Homo sapiens: one gene and its partners. The protein of the gene in region 3 purifies or fractionates together with the protein of the main gene of each other region. This does not show direct contact. Each region holds a gene or a part of one and is shown on either strand. Other genes may lie near its edges.

What was found. The genes of interacting proteins can lie anywhere in the genome.
Region 1: the proteins of IMMP1L (region 3) and MTMR9 purify together in Homo sapiens (affinity purification with mass spectrometry; one large-scale study listed by BioGRID and IntAct). This does not show direct contact.
Region 2: the proteins of IMMP1L (region 3) and IARS2 purify together in Homo sapiens (affinity purification with mass spectrometry; one large-scale study listed by BioGRID and IntAct). This does not show direct contact.
Region 4: the proteins of IMMP1L (region 3) and DNAJC11 purify together in Homo sapiens (affinity purification with mass spectrometry; one large-scale study listed by BioGRID and IntAct). This does not show direct contact.

The regions. Positions count from the first base shown.
Region 1 is NC_000008.11:11,291,212-11,294,815, forward strand, and holds part of MTMR9 (myotubularin-related protein 9), read left to right. Parts: intron 1-3,604. UniProt on the Homo sapiens protein: Acts as an adapter for myotubularin-related phosphatases. Increases lipid phosphatase MTMR6 catalytic activity, specifically towards phosphatidylinositol 3,5-bisphosphate and MTMR6 binding affinity for phosphorylated phosphatidylinositols.
Region 2 is NC_000001.11:220,107,528-220,111,131, forward strand, and holds part of IARS2 (isoleucine--tRNA ligase, mitochondrial precursor), read left to right. Parts: intron 1-3,258; coding exon 3,259-3,410; intron 3,411-3,604.
Region 3 is NC_000011.10:31,456,495-31,462,136, reverse strand, and holds part of IMMP1L (mitochondrial inner membrane protease subunit 1), read left to right. Parts: intron 1-1,422; coding exon 1,423-1,511; intron 1,512-5,642. UniProt on the Homo sapiens protein: Catalyzes the removal of transit peptides required for the targeting of proteins from the mitochondrial matrix, across the inner membrane, into the inter-membrane space. Known to process the nuclear encoded protein DIABLO.
Region 4 is NC_000001.11:6,649,817-6,653,420, forward strand, and holds part of DNAJC11 (dnaJ homolog subfamily C member 11), read right to left. Parts: intron 3,136-3,604; coding exon 3,013-3,135; intron 1,787-3,012; coding exon 1,713-1,786; intron 1-1,712.

The sequences.
Region 1 (3,604 bases), on a different chromosome or scaffold from region 3:
TGACATCCATGAACAATGTTACATTATTTATTCAGATCTTCCTTTAAGTCCCTTAGTGGAACTTTAAGATGGTGTATATGCTAGGTGCTGTACTAGGAGCTGAGGATATAGAAATTAATCAAACATGCCTTCTACCTGAAAAAACTAAGACCATTATAAGAAATAAACATATAAACTAGAAAGTTTAATAAAGTATTTTAAATGCTGTGATAGGGATGTATACAGGGCATGGATGGGACAATAAGGACAAAATGATAAAATAGAACTGAATCTGACAATTGATGTGAATCATAGGAGTTTTGTGGAGCTCTTATGTTTTTAAAACATATTTTTCTTGGCCCACTGTTCTATAAGTAACTGACTAGAAACATTGAATAAATGAATGGAGAATACCTTAATAGTTTATAGCATATTTATTCTGACATAAAGTAACAATTATTTTTAACTCCTCTAGTCATTCATTATACTTTATAGCAACTACATAAAACCTGCCAGACTAACAAAACAAAATTCACCTTACAAAATGAGTTAGTATGACAAGCATAGATGATATGGAAATTTACAAGAGAATAACCGTATGTCTTGTACATTTTTTTTGTTTTTTTACTGACAGTTTGGTTGCTGTGTGTCTTTCACTTCCAGCTGAAGCAGAATGACAGTGATTTTTAAAACAGTTTTATTGAGGTACAGTCGACGTATTACACACTATATATATTTGAAGTGTAAACTTTGATGTGTGTTGATATATGTACACACCCTGAAACTGTCACCATAAGTTCAAGATAATGAATTTATCACCCCCATAAGTTTTGTGGTGCCCTTTCGTAATCCCTTCCTTCTTTTCTTTTCCAAGTAGTCACAGATGAGTTTGCATTATCTAGAAATTTATGTCAGTATATCATAAATCATGCAGTACTCTCTTTTGAGATTTGTCCATGTTGTATATATCAATAGTTCATTCTTTTTATTGCTGAGTACTAAGTGTCCATTTTGCAGTATTCCATAGTTCATTTATTCACCTGGTGATGGAAATGTGGGTTTCCAATTTGAGGCTATTAAATAAAGTTGTTTTTAATATTCTTATGCAAGTCTTTGAATGAACATGTGGTTTCTTTTCTCTTGGGTGGCAAGCCATTTACTTGCCAGTGGAATGGCTGGATCAGATGTAGGTATGTGTTTTACTTTTTAAGAAGCTGCCCCAACTGTTTTCCAAAGTGCTTGTACCTACAGTTCTACATACCTATGAGCAGTGTGTGAGAGTTCTATTTCCTCCACATTCTTGTCAGCATTTGCTATGGTCTGTCTTTTAAATTTTGGCAATTCCAATAGATGTTAAGTGGTATCTTACTGTGGCTTAAATTTGCATTTCCCTTATGACTAGTGGTGTAGGGCATCTTTTCATATGCTTATTTGCCATCCATATGTCTTTTTTTTGCTAAGTGACCATCCATATAGTTTTCCCATTTGTAATGGATTATTTGCTTTCTTACTGCGTTTTGAGAGTGTATGTTTGTATATTCATACACAGTCATGTGATTTATTATATATATGATGGTAGTCCCATAAGATTATAATGGACCTGAAAAGTTTCTCTTGCCCAGTGACGTTGTGTTTGTGGTGATGCCAGTATAAACAACAAACCTGGGCTGCCAGTTACACAACAATGTAGCACATACCATTGCATACATCACATAATATTTATAAACGATCATAAAACGACTTTGTTACTGGTTTATGTATTTACTATAGTATACTTGTTATTGTTATTTTAGAGTATACTGCTTATACTTCTAAAAAGAATGTTAACTGTAAAACAGCCTCAGGCAAGTCCTTCAAGAATTATCCAGAAGAAGGCATTATCATCACAGGAAATGACAGGTTCATGTATGTTATTAATATTTCCCCTGAAGACCTTCCAGTGGGGCAAGATGTGGAGATGGAAGACAGTGACATTGATGATCCCAACCCTGTGTAGGCCTAGGCTAATGTGTGTGTTTGTGTCTTAGGTTTTAACAAGAAAGTTTACCAACAAAAATTTTTTAATTGGAAAAAGCTTATAGAATGAGGATATAAAGAAGGAAAATATTTTTGTACAGCTGTATGGTGTGTTGTATTTTCAGCTTAGTGTTATTACAAAAGAGGTAAAACGTTAGAGATTAAAAAGTTTATAAAGTAAAAAAGTTACAGTAAGGTAAGGTTAATTTATTGTTGAAGAAAGAAACATTTTAACAGTAAATTTAGTGTAGCCTGTTGATGAAGTCCTCAATAGCCTACAGGAATGCCCCGTGGCTTACCTTTTCATGCTCTTTAACCCTGTGTTTCAAAGAGCAGACGTTTTACATTTTGAACATGTCCAATTTGTCAGTTTGTTCTTTTATAGATTGGGATTTTAGTGTCTTATCTAAGAAACCATTGCCTCACCTAAGGTCACAAATATTTTCTCTCATGTTTTCTTCTAGCAGTTTTATAGCTTTGGGTTTTACATTTAGGTAAAAGGTCCCATTTTGAGTTAGTTTTTGTATATGGTTCATGATTATAGATTCAAATTCTTTAAAAAAAAAAAAAGCTATCCAGTTGTGCCAGCACCATTTGTTGAAAAGACTGACCTGTCTTCAATTGAATTGTCTTCGTATCTCTGTTCACGTGTAAGTGGATCTATTTCTGGACTCTTTTTTTCTGTTCAGTTGATCTGTTATCATCATGTCATTTTCACACTGTCTTAATTACTGTAGCTTTATAGTAAGCCTTGAAATTGTGTAGTGTTAGCCATACCACTTTGTTCTTATTCAAAGTTGTTTTGGCTATTTGAAGACATTTGCATTTCCATATGAATTTTAGAATCACCTTTTCAGTTTCTACATTAAAGTCTGCTGTGATTTTGTTTGGAATTATGTTGTATCACTGGATGAATTTGGGGAATAATTGACAATAAAAAGAAAATTCTGGGTACATTTACACAATCGTCATCTGCAAATAAAGGTAGTTTTACTTCTTTTTTAATCCTTTTTTATTCTTTTTACCTTACTGCACTAGTTATAACCTTGAGTGCAATGTTGACTAGAAGTGGTGACAGTGAACATCTTTGTGTTATTCATGATTTTAGAGAGAAATAATTCAATCCTTCACCGTTAAGTGTGCTATTAGATTTAGGGGTTTTTTTGTGGGGTTTTTTGTAAATGCCCTTATCAGGTTGAGGAAGTTCCCTTCTGTTTCAAATTTGCTGAGAAATTTTTGGTTTTTCATGTTTTTAAATCAGAAATGGATGTTAGATTTTGTCAAATACTTTCACTTTTTTTTTTTTTTTTTTGAGACAGAGTCTCAACTCTGTCACCTAGGCTGGAGTGCAGTGGCTCAGACTCGGCTCACTGCAACCTCTGCCTCCCGGGTTCAAGCGATTCTCTTGCCTGAGCCTCCTGAGTAGCTGCATGCCACCACGCCCAGCTAATTTTTTGTATTTTTAGCAGAGACAGAATTTCACTGTGTTAGCCAGGATGGTCTTGATCTCCTGACCTCGTGATCCACCCGCCTTGGCTTCCTGAAGTGCTGGGATTACAGACGTGAGCCACGGCACCCGGCCCTTTTGCTTTTTATAAATTGATACATA
Region 2 (3,604 bases), on a different chromosome or scaffold from region 3:
TTGGGAATCCTCCAGCCTTGAATTGTCTTTCTGTCTTCCTTTACAGATTCAGAGACCAAGTGCTATGAAAACCTTTCTTTGCCCACACTAAGACTAAGGCTATTTAGACCTGATATATTACTTTTCTAGGGCTACTGTAAAAAATCACCGTAAACTTGGTAGTTTGAAACAACAGAAATTTATTCTCTCAAGTGCTGGAAGCTAGAAGTCTAAATTCATCGTACTGGCAGGACCATGTTTTCCTGAAGGTTTTATGGGAGAATCCTTACTTGCCTCTTTCTAGCTTTTGGTGGCTCCTGGAAATCCTTGGCATTCCTTGGTTTATAACTGCGTTACTCCACTCTCTGCCTGTCTTGTCACATGGCCTTCTTTAGATCTTACTTGTTTTTTCGAGACAATCTCACTTTCTCACTCAGGTTGATGTGCAGTGGCATGCTTTCAGCTCACTGCCACCTCTGTGTCCTGGGTTCAAGTGATTCTTGTGCCTTAGCCTCCTGAGCAGATGGGATTACAGGCATACACCACCACACCCAGCTAATTTTTTTTTTTTTGAGACACAGTCTCACTCTGTTGCCCAGGCTGGAGTGCAGTGGTGTGATCTCAGCTCACTGCAACCTCTGCCTCCTGGGTTCAAGCAATTCTCTTGCCTCAGCCTCCCAAGTAGCTGGGATTACAGGATACACACCACTACTCCTGGCTAATTTTTGTATTTTTAGTAGAGATGGGGTTTCACCATGTTGGCCAGGCTGGTCTTGAACTCCTGACCTCAGGTGATCTGCCCACCTTAGCCTCCCAAAGTGCTGGAATTACAGGCGTGAGCCCTCACTGTGTCAGGCCATAATTTTTTTATTTTTTATTTTATTTTTATTTTTTTTTTAAGACGGAGTCTCGCTCTGTTGCCCAGGCTGGAGTACAGTGGCACGATCTTGGCTCACTGCAAGCTCTGCCTCCTGGGTTCATGGGTTCTCCTGCCTCAGTCTCTCGAGTAGCTGGGACTACAGGCGCCTGCCACCATGCCCAGCTAATTTTTTGTATTTTTAGTAGAGATGGGGTTTCACCATATTAGCCAGGACGGTCTCGATCTCCTGACCTCGTGATCCACCTGCCTTGGCCTCCCAAAATGCTGGGTTTACAGGCATGAGCCACCGCACCCGGCCTATTTTTTATTTTTAATAGAGACAGGGTTTCACCATGTTGGCCAGGCTGGTCTCAAACTCCCAGCCCCAAGTGATCCACCTGCCTAGGCCTCCCAAAGTGTTGGGATTATAGGTGTGAGCCACCGTACCCAGCCACCTTCTTTAGGTCTTAAATGTCTCTCTGTGAATCCTCTTTTTTTTTTTTTTTTTTTTTTTTTTATTGGAGGGACTGGTTCTTTATTTCAAAAAGACACTTGTCAATATTCAGTATCAAAGCAGGTGGACTATTGATTTCTGTTTCTCCCAATCGGCCCCAAAGAGACTATATCAAAGGACAGTACGTTTTAAGCCAGTATGCTGCAGGATGTACACCTGACAGACTTTACAGAAACCTTATCGGAAAGTGGGGATTGGGTAGGGAAAGAAACTTTAAAAGATCAGCAAACTGCCAGCCCGGCCAGGCACGGTGGCTCACCCCTGTAATCCCAGCGCTTTGGGAGGCTGAAGCGGACATATCACGAGGTCAGGAGTTCGAGACCTGCCTGGCCAACATGGTGAAACCCTGTGTCTACTAAAAATACAAAAAATTAGCCAGGTGTGGTGGTAGGTGCCTGTAATCCCAGCTACTCTGGAGGGTGAGGCAGGAGAATCACTTGAACCTGGGAGGCAGAGGTTGCAGTGAGCTGAGACTGCACCACTGCACTCCATCCTGGGCAACAGAGCGAGAGTCCATCTCAAAAAAAAAAAAAAAATCTGCCAGCTCACAGACTGTAGAGGGCTGTCACAGTCAAACTGGGTGGCCAGGGTGCCACCCAAAGAAGCAAAGTTTCAAAATAATACAAAAATTTAAAAAAGTTTTGTACATAAGCTATTTAAGATTTCTCTAGCATTAACTGATATTAAGCACAATGAGATGGCACTTTTAGAGACAGCAGCTTCAAACCCAGAAAAGGGTAATGAGATGAGTTTCACATGGCTGAATCAGTGGCAAAAACATAATCTTCTTTCTATCCTCCTCTAAGAACACCAGTGCTCCCTAATGCAGTGTGACCTCATCTAAACTTGATTACATCTGCAGAGGCCTGATTCCCAAGTAAGGTCACATTCACTAGTGCTGGGGGTTAGATCTTCTTGGGGACACAGTTCAACCCACTACACCTGGTTTCCTCCAGATTACCTGGAGACCATTTTAAGATTCATGGCATGAAAGATTATGGATCTAAACTTCAAATGTAGAATTCTAGATATAATCTGTTCATCTTTTCTTTGACGTGAAAAGAGGTAGAAGTGGCATAATTTGGAGTCTGATTAAGATTTTACAGTCCGTGCTTTTTTTTGCCAGGAGAATCCCAGAGCACGCCTTTGATACCTGGAAGGTGACTACTCTTTTTTATTTTATTTTTTTTTGTGAGACAGAGTCTCGCTTTGTTGCCCAGGCTGGAGTGCAGTGGCACAATCTCGGTTCACTACAGCCTCCGCTTTAGCTTAGGTTCAAATGATTCTCCCACCTCAGCCTCCCAAGTAGCTGGGATTACAGGCTCACACCACTGTGCCCTGCTAATTTTTTTGTATTTTTAATAGAGATGGGGTTTCACCATGCAGGCCAGGCTGGTCTTGAATTCCTGACCTCAAGTGATCCTCTCGTCTCTGCCTCCCAAACTGTTGGGATTACAGGCGTGAGCAACCACGCCCAGCCAAGTTGACTACTCTTTTATTTTTTGAGACGGAGTCTCGCTCTGTCACCCAGGCTGGAGTGCAGTGGCACGATCTCGGCTCACTGCAACCTCTGCCTCCCAGGTTCAAGCGATTCTCCTGCCTCAGCCTCCTGAGTAGCTGGGATTATGGGCACACACCACCATGCCCGGCTGATTTTTGCATTTTTAGTAGAGACGAGGTTTCACCATGTTGGTCAGGCTGGTCTCGAACTCCTGACCTCGTGATTTGCCTGCCTCAGCCTCGCAAAGTGCTGGGATTACAGGTGTGAGCCACTGTGGCTGGCAAGGTGACTACTCTTATTGCCACCTGTTGCTGCAGATTTAGTATTTTCTGGAAGTTTAGAGCATTTTTAGGATTTTCACAGTACTTTTTAATTATGTCTAATTTGGTGTTTTTTTTTTTAAAGTTATAAAGATGCTTCAGACTGCAAAGAATTTGTTGAAAGAGGAGAAATTGGTGCATAGCTATCCGTATGACTGGAGGACCAAGAAACCTGTGGTTATTCGTGCCAGCAAGCAGTGGTTTATAAACATCACGGATATTAAGACTGCAGCCAAGGTATAAAAAGCATCCTGTTTTAACAGGTCGGGCATATCATTCCCTCAGTATAAAGGGGCTGCATGTGAGGTTGAGGTGGGGTTTCAGGAGTAATAGGGATTGCTGCTATTATGATTTAGTTTCATAACATTGTAGAATTTTAGATCTGGAAGGACCTTGGACTTCCATTTTTTCATTATACATGTGTGAGAAAT
Region 3 (5,642 bases):
CACCATGTTGGCCAGGCTGTGCACGAACTCCTGGCCTCAGGTGATCTGCCTACCTTGGCATCCCAAAGTTCTGGGATTATAGGTATGAGCAACTGTACCTGGCTGAAACTTGCCTTCTTGATTTTTTTGTAAGTTAGATTGGTACTTCCAAAGGTAGCAAACAAACTGTAATTGTATTTCCTCCTATTTCTGCCTGAGTAGGAACTTTTGAGTAAAAAGTTTTATTTACAAATAGAGTAAATGGAGACTGTCGGATTTAGATTTTTAAAGTGGCGATGATAGTTTTTTCTGATTCTGAGGTAGAGTTTGAGTATCCCTTATCTGAAATGCTTGGGACCAGAAGTGTTATGGATTTTAGATTTTTTTGGATTTTGGAATATTTGCATATACATAATGAGATATTTTGGGGATGGGACCCAAGTCTGAACGCAAAATTCATTTATATTTCATATGTACCTTATATGCATAGCCTGAAGGTAATGTTATACACTATTTTAAAGAATTTTGTGCATGAAACAAAAATTTTGACTGCATGTTGGCTGTGATGCATCACATGGGGTCAGGTATGGAATTTACCATTTGTGGTGTCATGTAGACACTCAGAACATTTCAGATTTTAGAGCATTTAAGACTTCAGATTTTTTATTAGGGACACTCAACCTGTATATATCAAGATTATTGTTTTGAGACATACAAATAGGAAAATCTTTAATTGCTTCATTGTAAAGATGGGTTCTATTTAGGTTGCCAGGTTTGGTCTTGAACTCCTGGCCTCAAGTCATTCTTCCAAAGTTTTGGGATTACAGGTGTGAGCCACCATGCCTGGCCATGAAAATCTTTAAAGTCCATCTCATCATGCTAGTATTTTTCAGTAGAACATTTAAGTTGCAGCCCCATGAAATGAGTAAGCTATTCTCTTGGAAGAGGAAGATGGGCATAAGCTCACTGAGAATAGTATAATACCATTTAGTAAATCATCATCATGTTCACTGGATTATATCTGATAGTAATAAGAAAATGTATTATTCTCCCATTCATTCAACCAATATGTATGGTTTATCAATTTTGTACCAAACATTGTTCTTGGCTTTGGTTATATAGCTAGGAACATGAGAGAGATCTCTGCCTTCATAGAACTGAGATTCTATAGGGTGGCCTAAATTTGGAAACATAGGTAATGTTGTTTTATTCAGGCATTATAATGTGAAAGCAATAATCCATTTATAATGTATTTGTCTATATTTCCAGACTTAGTGGCTACTCTAGAGTTGAACTTACTTGAGAACTGCCAAATTTTCATGAATCATCCCCCAAGCTTTAGGAACATTTGCTTGATTTTCTTTCTTTTAAGCTTGCTTAAAAGATTTATGTTAAATTTAAAAGAGATTTTGAATTTAGATTACAAATTACCTCTCTTTTCAGTGTTCTGGACCATCAATGGAGCCTACAATTCAAAATTCAGATATTGTCTTTGCAGAAAATCTTAGTCGACATTTTTATGGTATCCAAAGGTAAATTTCTGTCATGGATATATTAAATTTACAGTGAAAATACACACACACATTGTGGCTTTTCTGCAGTTCCTTAACTTTATCTTTAAAACCTCTTTCATAAATAAACATATTAATAACCAGCTAGATAAAATTTTGAGTCAAATATTCTCTTTCAGTTTGAGAAATTTTAATAGTTTCTCAAACATATGCAGTGTCTTGGGTCATTGTATCTCTTGCATCATTTTGAAAAATAATTAGCAGTCCCTTACAATATACATGTAAGCTTAACTTTTTTAATTGGGCTTTAGAATATTTTGAGTTAAGAACTAGGAACTTAGGGATTACATTACAGATCCAAATCAATGTTTTTGTTCTTTAATTTTAAAAATAATCCTGTAGTTCTATTGATTGCTATCTTACTTTATATGTAGTCTATGATGACCGTTTGATGGTTTTTATTTTTTTAAATTTTCTGATATACATTTTTTGGATGAGGTCTTGCTCTGGCTCCCAGGCTGGAGTGCAGTGACACGATCTCAGCTCCCTGCAGCCTCAACCTCCTGGGCTCCAGTGATCCTTCCCCTTAGTCTCCCAAGTAGCTGTGACTACAGGTGTATACTCGCCGCGCCCAGATAATTTTTGTAGTTTTTGTAGAGACTGGGTTTCGCCATGTTGCCCAGGCTGGTCTCAAACTCCTGAGCTCAAGCAATCCGCTCACCTCAGCCTCCCAAAGTGTTGGGATTACAGGTGTGAGCCACCGTGCCCAGCCCATTTGATGATTTTTAGATTACATCATTGTATATGGCTGAGAACCAGGAATTGTATATATTATGAGTCTCCTGATTAATTATATTAAGTTGAATAACTCCTGGGCAAATATTGTGTGTCACTAAACCTTTTAAAGTCCTATTTCACAGCAGGCTGAGGCAGGAGAATTGCTTGAACCTGGGAGATGGAGGTTGCAGTGAGCTGAGATCATGCCACTGCACTCCAGCCTGGGTGACAGAGCAAGACTCCATCTCACAAAAAAATAATAATGATAAAAAATCCTATTTCAAGTGGTGGTTCCAATCCTTGTGATACCCTTTATTCCAATTAACTCTATGAGAATGATTTATTCCAAATGAATGTCAAGTATTAATAATTTAATATATTTTCTAAAGAGCACCTCTCTGATACCCTAAAATTTTGAGTCCATTTGTTTTTTATAATTCTGAAAAAAATCTATGCCTGCTTTCATTTCAGTAAACTACAGATTTGATTCCCTTGAGCTAGTGTTTAGTTTATGGCATATTAAGTAGGTTTAGGCACTTCTCTTTCACTATTCACCTTTGCTATAACCTATTTCACATTACTGAAAATTGTTAAGAATACATTTCTTCACATTTACTGATCTTTCACCAGCCTTAGATTCTGCAGATAGAAACTCTCTTGGTCAACCTGTATGGTTTGGCATGCTCCCTAGGTAATTCTTCTTCAAATCTTTTACCCATAACAACTTCTATATACTTAATTGTAGATACAGGAATTATAAAATAAAACTTATATAATAGATTGTGTTGTTGCTCCCTTTTCTTTTTAACTTATATCAAATTATCCTTATATAGCCTTTGAATTAACTGGAGACCTAGCCCCACTGTAGCATGAAACCAAGCATCTGTGTTCCATGCCAGTGACATAATTTTATTCACAATAATCCTTGGGCATCCTGAATGAGGAGATGAACTTGTTGGCTGAATAGTTTTTGAATACACAGCTTGATATTTTTAAAAAAATTACTCGTTGCATTCAGATAAGTGAAACAAATAACTACATTCAGTAAATGAATTCAGATTCTTTGAAGATCTTATTTTGTACCCTATTCATCCAGGTTACAGGACAGCTCAAAATCTGGCATTTATGAGATATACCAAAGTAACTTTTAGAGCCAAGATAGCCAGCTGGTAACTTTTACTTAAGAAATATTACTGTCCTGAGTATTCTCTTTCTTTTACCCACAGCACAGAACTCAAGATTTCAGGGGAATCTTTGACCCCTGGCAAGGTGTCCTGTTGTTAGCTGCCTGTTTCTAAATGTAAAATAACCTTCCATTTAGGCAAGAATAAAAGTTTGCATATCTAGTATCTAAAGCACATGGATGTCTCTTCAGTCAACTGCACAGAACACTCAACCTTGAGACAGTCAGATTTTTACTATTGCTTATTCTTTCAACAAATAGTAGTGAGCACCTAATTTATAAGATGTACCATACATTATAGAGAATGTTAAGATTAATGAGATAATTGACACTAGTTTTCAAAAGCTTACTGTGTAGTAGAATAATAAGGATGTTTATAAATATAAATGAGAAAATTTTTAATAAGCTTCCTTTTAAAACTATTTGAAGGAGTTAAGAATCCAGCCGATATGTATTTTGATCTAAACGCTATGCATATATCTAGTTAGACTACCAGAAATAAAGTTTATTTATACTACTTTCTACAAAACAGCACGACTGAATTATGATTTCTATGTTGCCATTCGAGTGCAAAGTTTGTTTTAAGGGTCATATTGATTATTTGATCAAAGAACTTAAGCTTCATTAGACACCCATGGAAAAACGTCTCTTCCTCCAAAGCTACCCAAAATCAACTTTGATGGCGTGTTACAATCTTTGCAAATTTGTTCATCTGAACAGATCCACTGACATGGTTCTAGTTGGTTAGAAAGAAAATACCTTTATTCTGTTTTCAAAAGAAGGCAACACTGTGTTGCCTCCAAATTATAGAATGTAACGATTTGCTACCTTTCAACTCTTACCAAGAATAGCCTCAAGAGATCATCATTGTAAATACTATTTCTGCACTCTGTGTAAAATTTCTGATAAAGATGGTATCTTTTATTCTCTTATATAAGAAAGTTTCTTGTGAATTTCTCTTTGATTTAGTTGTTAGGGAAAATTTTGTCTTACCTCCCAAGCTAAATGTTATTTTATTAATTAATGATTTCCATGTAACTGGTCTTAATTTCTTCTGACTTGGCTCCCAAAGAGTTTAGAACCCATTTTAATGCTTCTATAGAGCAGTTATTAGGTTTCTGATTTCTTCATAATTTTCCTTTTATTCTTATGACTTTTAATATTATTTTGACATATGCTTCATTAAACTATTTCTGGAACTAGGTACAATTAATAAGCAAATATGTTAAATCCTTTTAAACGTGTGTTAGTCAACAGAATTCACATATTGCTCGTTTTATGCAGAAAGAGTATTGTGTTCTGTTTGACTGTGGTCATTAGTCCTACGTTCTATCTTTCTTCCTTTTCACTTTTTAGGATCTTTCTTATTTTTTATTACCAGATAGATTGTCAGTTCTTCCATAAATCATGACTTCTGTATGTAATCAGACCCTTATTGGTTTTATATGTTTGATATCTCATTTTATTTTTCAGAGTGTATATTTAGGCAGCTTTTAGCATTTTATTTTGTTGTATCTTTTGATTTTTTTTCTCAAATATAAGTTCTTTTGATATGGGTTATAGGACTTACATGCTATCATTCCTCAATTATTTGAGTTCTAGGGAAACATGGATGATGCTTTTACCTTTTTAGTGTGCTCTAGAGTCAATCAGTGCTACTGGCTGGACCGCAATATTTATTTACTTAATTTGTTAGTATTTATATAGAATTGTGTGGAGGGTTTTTTTTTCTTTTTTTGGTTCACTTGGGGTTTTTCTTGGTTTGTTTGTTTTGTGTGTGTGGTTTTTTTTTTTTTTTTTTTTTTTTTTTGGAGACATGGTCTCAGTCTGTTGCCCATGGTGGCACGATCTTAGCCTCACTGCAACCGTGAACTCCTGGCTTCAAGCAATCCTCTTGCCGTAGCCTCCCAAAGTGCTGAGATTATAGTTGTGAGCCACTGTACCCGGCCTATGTAGAATTGTTTTTCCACAATTTTGGTTCTAAGAATTTGGACACAGGAGTAAAGCATACTGGATACAATGCAAAAGATAATTCTTGTAGAATTATCTGAAAGTTTAGAATCTTCTGAAATTATCAGAAATTTTAGATAGCCTTTTTATCACTCTTATTGTTGGATTCTCACCTAAAGTATTCAGTCACAAAGGTTCTCAAAGCCAGTAAATGTGTGGAAGAGTAAGTATATGAGAGGATA
Region 4 (3,604 bases), on a different chromosome or scaffold from region 3:
CCCACCTCAGCCTCCCAAGTAGCTGGGACTACAGGCAAGCGCCACCATGCCTGGTTAATTTTTATATTTTTAGTAGAGGGGGTTTCGCCATGTTGGCCAGGCTGGTCTCGAACTCCTGTACATGTTTGTACATGTTTGTACAGCCTACAATACATGTTTGATAAGAAAGTTATTCATGCCACTGTGCCTGGGCACAGTGGCTCACACCTGTAATGCCAGCACTTTGGGAGGCCAAGGTGGGAGGATCACCTGAGGTCAGGAGTTAAGAGACCAGCCTGGCCAACAAGGAGAAACCCCAACTCTACAAAAATTAGTCAGGCATGGTGGTGCACACCTGTAGTCCCAGCTACTCAGGAGGGTCACCTGAGCCTGGGAGGTTGAGGGTGCAGTGAGCCAAGATTGCATCACTATTCTCCAGCCGGGGTGACAAAGTGAGACCTGTCTCAAAACAAAAAACATATACTCCAGGCTTGCTGAAGTGGCTCATGCTTCTAATCTCAGTGCTTTGGGAGGCCAAGGTGGGAGGACTGCTTGAATCCAGGAGCTTGAGACCAGCCTAGGCAACATAGAGATAACTTATCCCTAAAAAAAACTAAACAATGAGCCAGGCATGTTGGCACACGCCTGTAGTCCTAGTTTTTCGGGAGGCTGAGGGAGGAGGACTGCTTGACCCCAGGAGTTCAAGGCTGCAGTGGACTATGATCGGACTATTGCACTCTAGCCTAGGCAACAGAACAAAACCTCGTCTCTAACAAAAATAAAGTAAAATAAAATAGGCCAGGCGTGGTGGCTCACGCCTGTAATCTCACCACTTTGGGAGGCCGAGGCAGGTGGATCACCTGAGGTCAGGAGTTCGAGACCAGCCTGACCAACATGGTGAAACCCCATCTCTATTAAAAATACAAAAATAGCTGGGTGTGGTGGCACACGCCTGTAGTCCCAGCTACTCGGAAGGTTGAGACAGGAGAATAGCTTGAACCCAGGAGGCAGAGGCTGCAGTGAGCCGAGATCACACCACCGCACTCCAGGCTGGGCAAGACAGAGCAAGACCCTGTCTCCAAAATAAATAAATAAATAAAATAAACTCCATGTGCTCCATTCTAGGACTCCTTCAGCTATATCTTCCTCTGGAAGAAAGAGGTATTATTTACCCTCCACCAATTCTTTTATCTGAGCTCACACAGACATCACTGCACCCACCATATAGGAAATGAAGACACTGCTGTCGTTCTAGAAGGGACAGGGATATACAGTTCTAGGAGTGTGACATGGCAGCAGCAGAGACGACAGGAAGCAGAGGCTGGCTGGGGACTACATCTCTGGCATATGTCAATCAACCCGATGATGAGGCAGTCTGTCATTCTCTGGGACAATGGAACGATCCATAAGTCTGTAAGTGTTTCGGTCCACTGACCAACTCTCCCTGAAGGCACTCTTTCTCCGTGGCCTTGTGGCATAGGTAAGGGAGGTGCGAGACCTGGATGGTGCAGCCTGGCCAGGGCTGGGACAAGGGTCCGGCCCCCTCAATCCTGCCTCTTCCCACCTGCACACTGCCTGGGCTTCACGCCAGTGCTATACCTGCCCTTGATGTACGCAGTGACCTTGTAGGACAGACAAGATAGTGCCAACCACTGTGATAAAAAGAACACACAGTTCTAGTCTCCTAAGCCAACAAAGACCACCAAAGAGGAGCTGCTGTCTCTCATATTTACCATCTTGGTGTGAGATTACGGAACAGCTTGAGACCGAACAAAGGCCCCTGTAGGTCTCCAGCTCCAAATTCCAACTGTTTGAAAAGGAAAAAGAGAAGGCATTAATGGTGTTTTATCTCATAGCAGCAACCCAGGCTCAGGTATGTACCTCTAGGTATAATTCCTTCATTCAATTCACTGGTCTTGCCAGGGCTCTAAAAGAAGGGGGTGGAAGATTGTTAATGTCTCATCTTAACCTTTGCCAAATGGAGCTGTCTGCTGCCACAGATCCAAAGGAGACCCAGGCTTCAAAGGCACATGTTTCATTGGTGTCCCTCCAAAGAAAAAACTGCTCCCCTCTGTTCCTTGCCTCCCAGGCTGAGGTCAGGAGACCAGCTGGCTCCCCCTACCCCTCCCGGCGCAGCCCCCCGCCACCTGCAGAGCACCGACTGCGGTCCGGTGTGCCCCCCACCCCCGCATGCACTGCCGACTCCTTTTCATTTTCATCCTGCGCCAAATGTCTCCCAGGTCACTGGGGCGGTCCTCAGGAGCCTGATGTTAAAGCCCAGCCGCGGTTCCACACCCGCACAGCCTTGGAAGTCACAGCTGAGCCTGGCTGCCGTGTTTACTAGTCTGGGTGACTTTCAAGCAACTCTTCAATGTTAATTTGATGCAGCTCAATTTGCTCGGCAGAACTGGCTGTTAAATGGCCACCAATCAGTGAACCATCACGCGGAAGAGAGCACCTGCCTTCTGAATTGTGCAGGAAAAAGAGCCCACAGGCTTTTTGCTCAAAGGGAACAAACACACGGAGTTTCAGAGGCTGGATTTCTAGAAGTTGGCATCTCATAGGAAACCTTGTTTTTCTATGCCAATTTTAAACTGTGAGGAAGACTGACAGGACTTCTCAGATATGAGACCTATTTATTTATTTATTTTTGAGACGGAATTTTGCTCTTGTCCCCCAGACTGGAGTGCAACGGCGCGATCTTGACTCGCTGCAACCTCTGCCTCCTGGGTTCATGTGATTCTCGTGATTCTCCTGCCTCAGCCTCCCAAGTAGCTGGGATTACAGGCAGGTGCCACCATGCCCAGCTAAGTTTTGTATTTTTAGTAGAGACGGGGTTTCACCATGTTGGCCAGGCTCATGAGACCTATTTTTCTTTTAGGACCAGTCAACTTATGGAAGCTTGACACTTGGTACCGTTCTTACACAACAACGGGGCCCCCAGGGTGAGTTTGAGGGTGAGCTTTGAGAGTGTAAATGTTCAGAAATAAGGCTTTGCACAGACAACACAACTCAGCCAATAGACATTCTTACCTCTCCCCATCCCTTTGCCGAAGTTACTCGTCTGAGCGCAAAGTTAATGGAACCTCCTCCATTTCCATTCTGGGTTGAGAGGCTTCCAGAGAGGATGGCTGTGTCTGTCGCTGTCAAGGGTGCCTAAAAATGGTATTTGCTGGTAATGAATGAATCAAAACAACAGGAAGTGCCAATGGCAGCAGCCTAAAGAACGCACTGTGAGCCCAAGGCCAAAGGTGCAGACGATTCCTCTGTTCAGAAGCACACATGGATGCAGAACTGCCGCAACAGCTTCACTTTTCTTCCGCTTTGTTATTTGGTCTGCATGTGACCACGAGGGTAATATGCTTTGCAAAAGCTTTAATGGGCACATTTCACAACACCAGGGGAAACATGGGGCTGCATGTCCCAATGGTATCAGATAGCACAGTGACTTCACTGTGTGCCTTCCCTCTGTGGTTTGCCATCAGGGTTCCAGGGGGACTGAAGACCTTCCCATGGCTGTATTCTGTATCAACTGACTCAGGGAGCTCCAAGAGGGGGCAAATTTCCCCAAGTTAGGACTCCACGTTGTTGGCTGATGCAATGGAGAATAAATTAATGAGCTGAG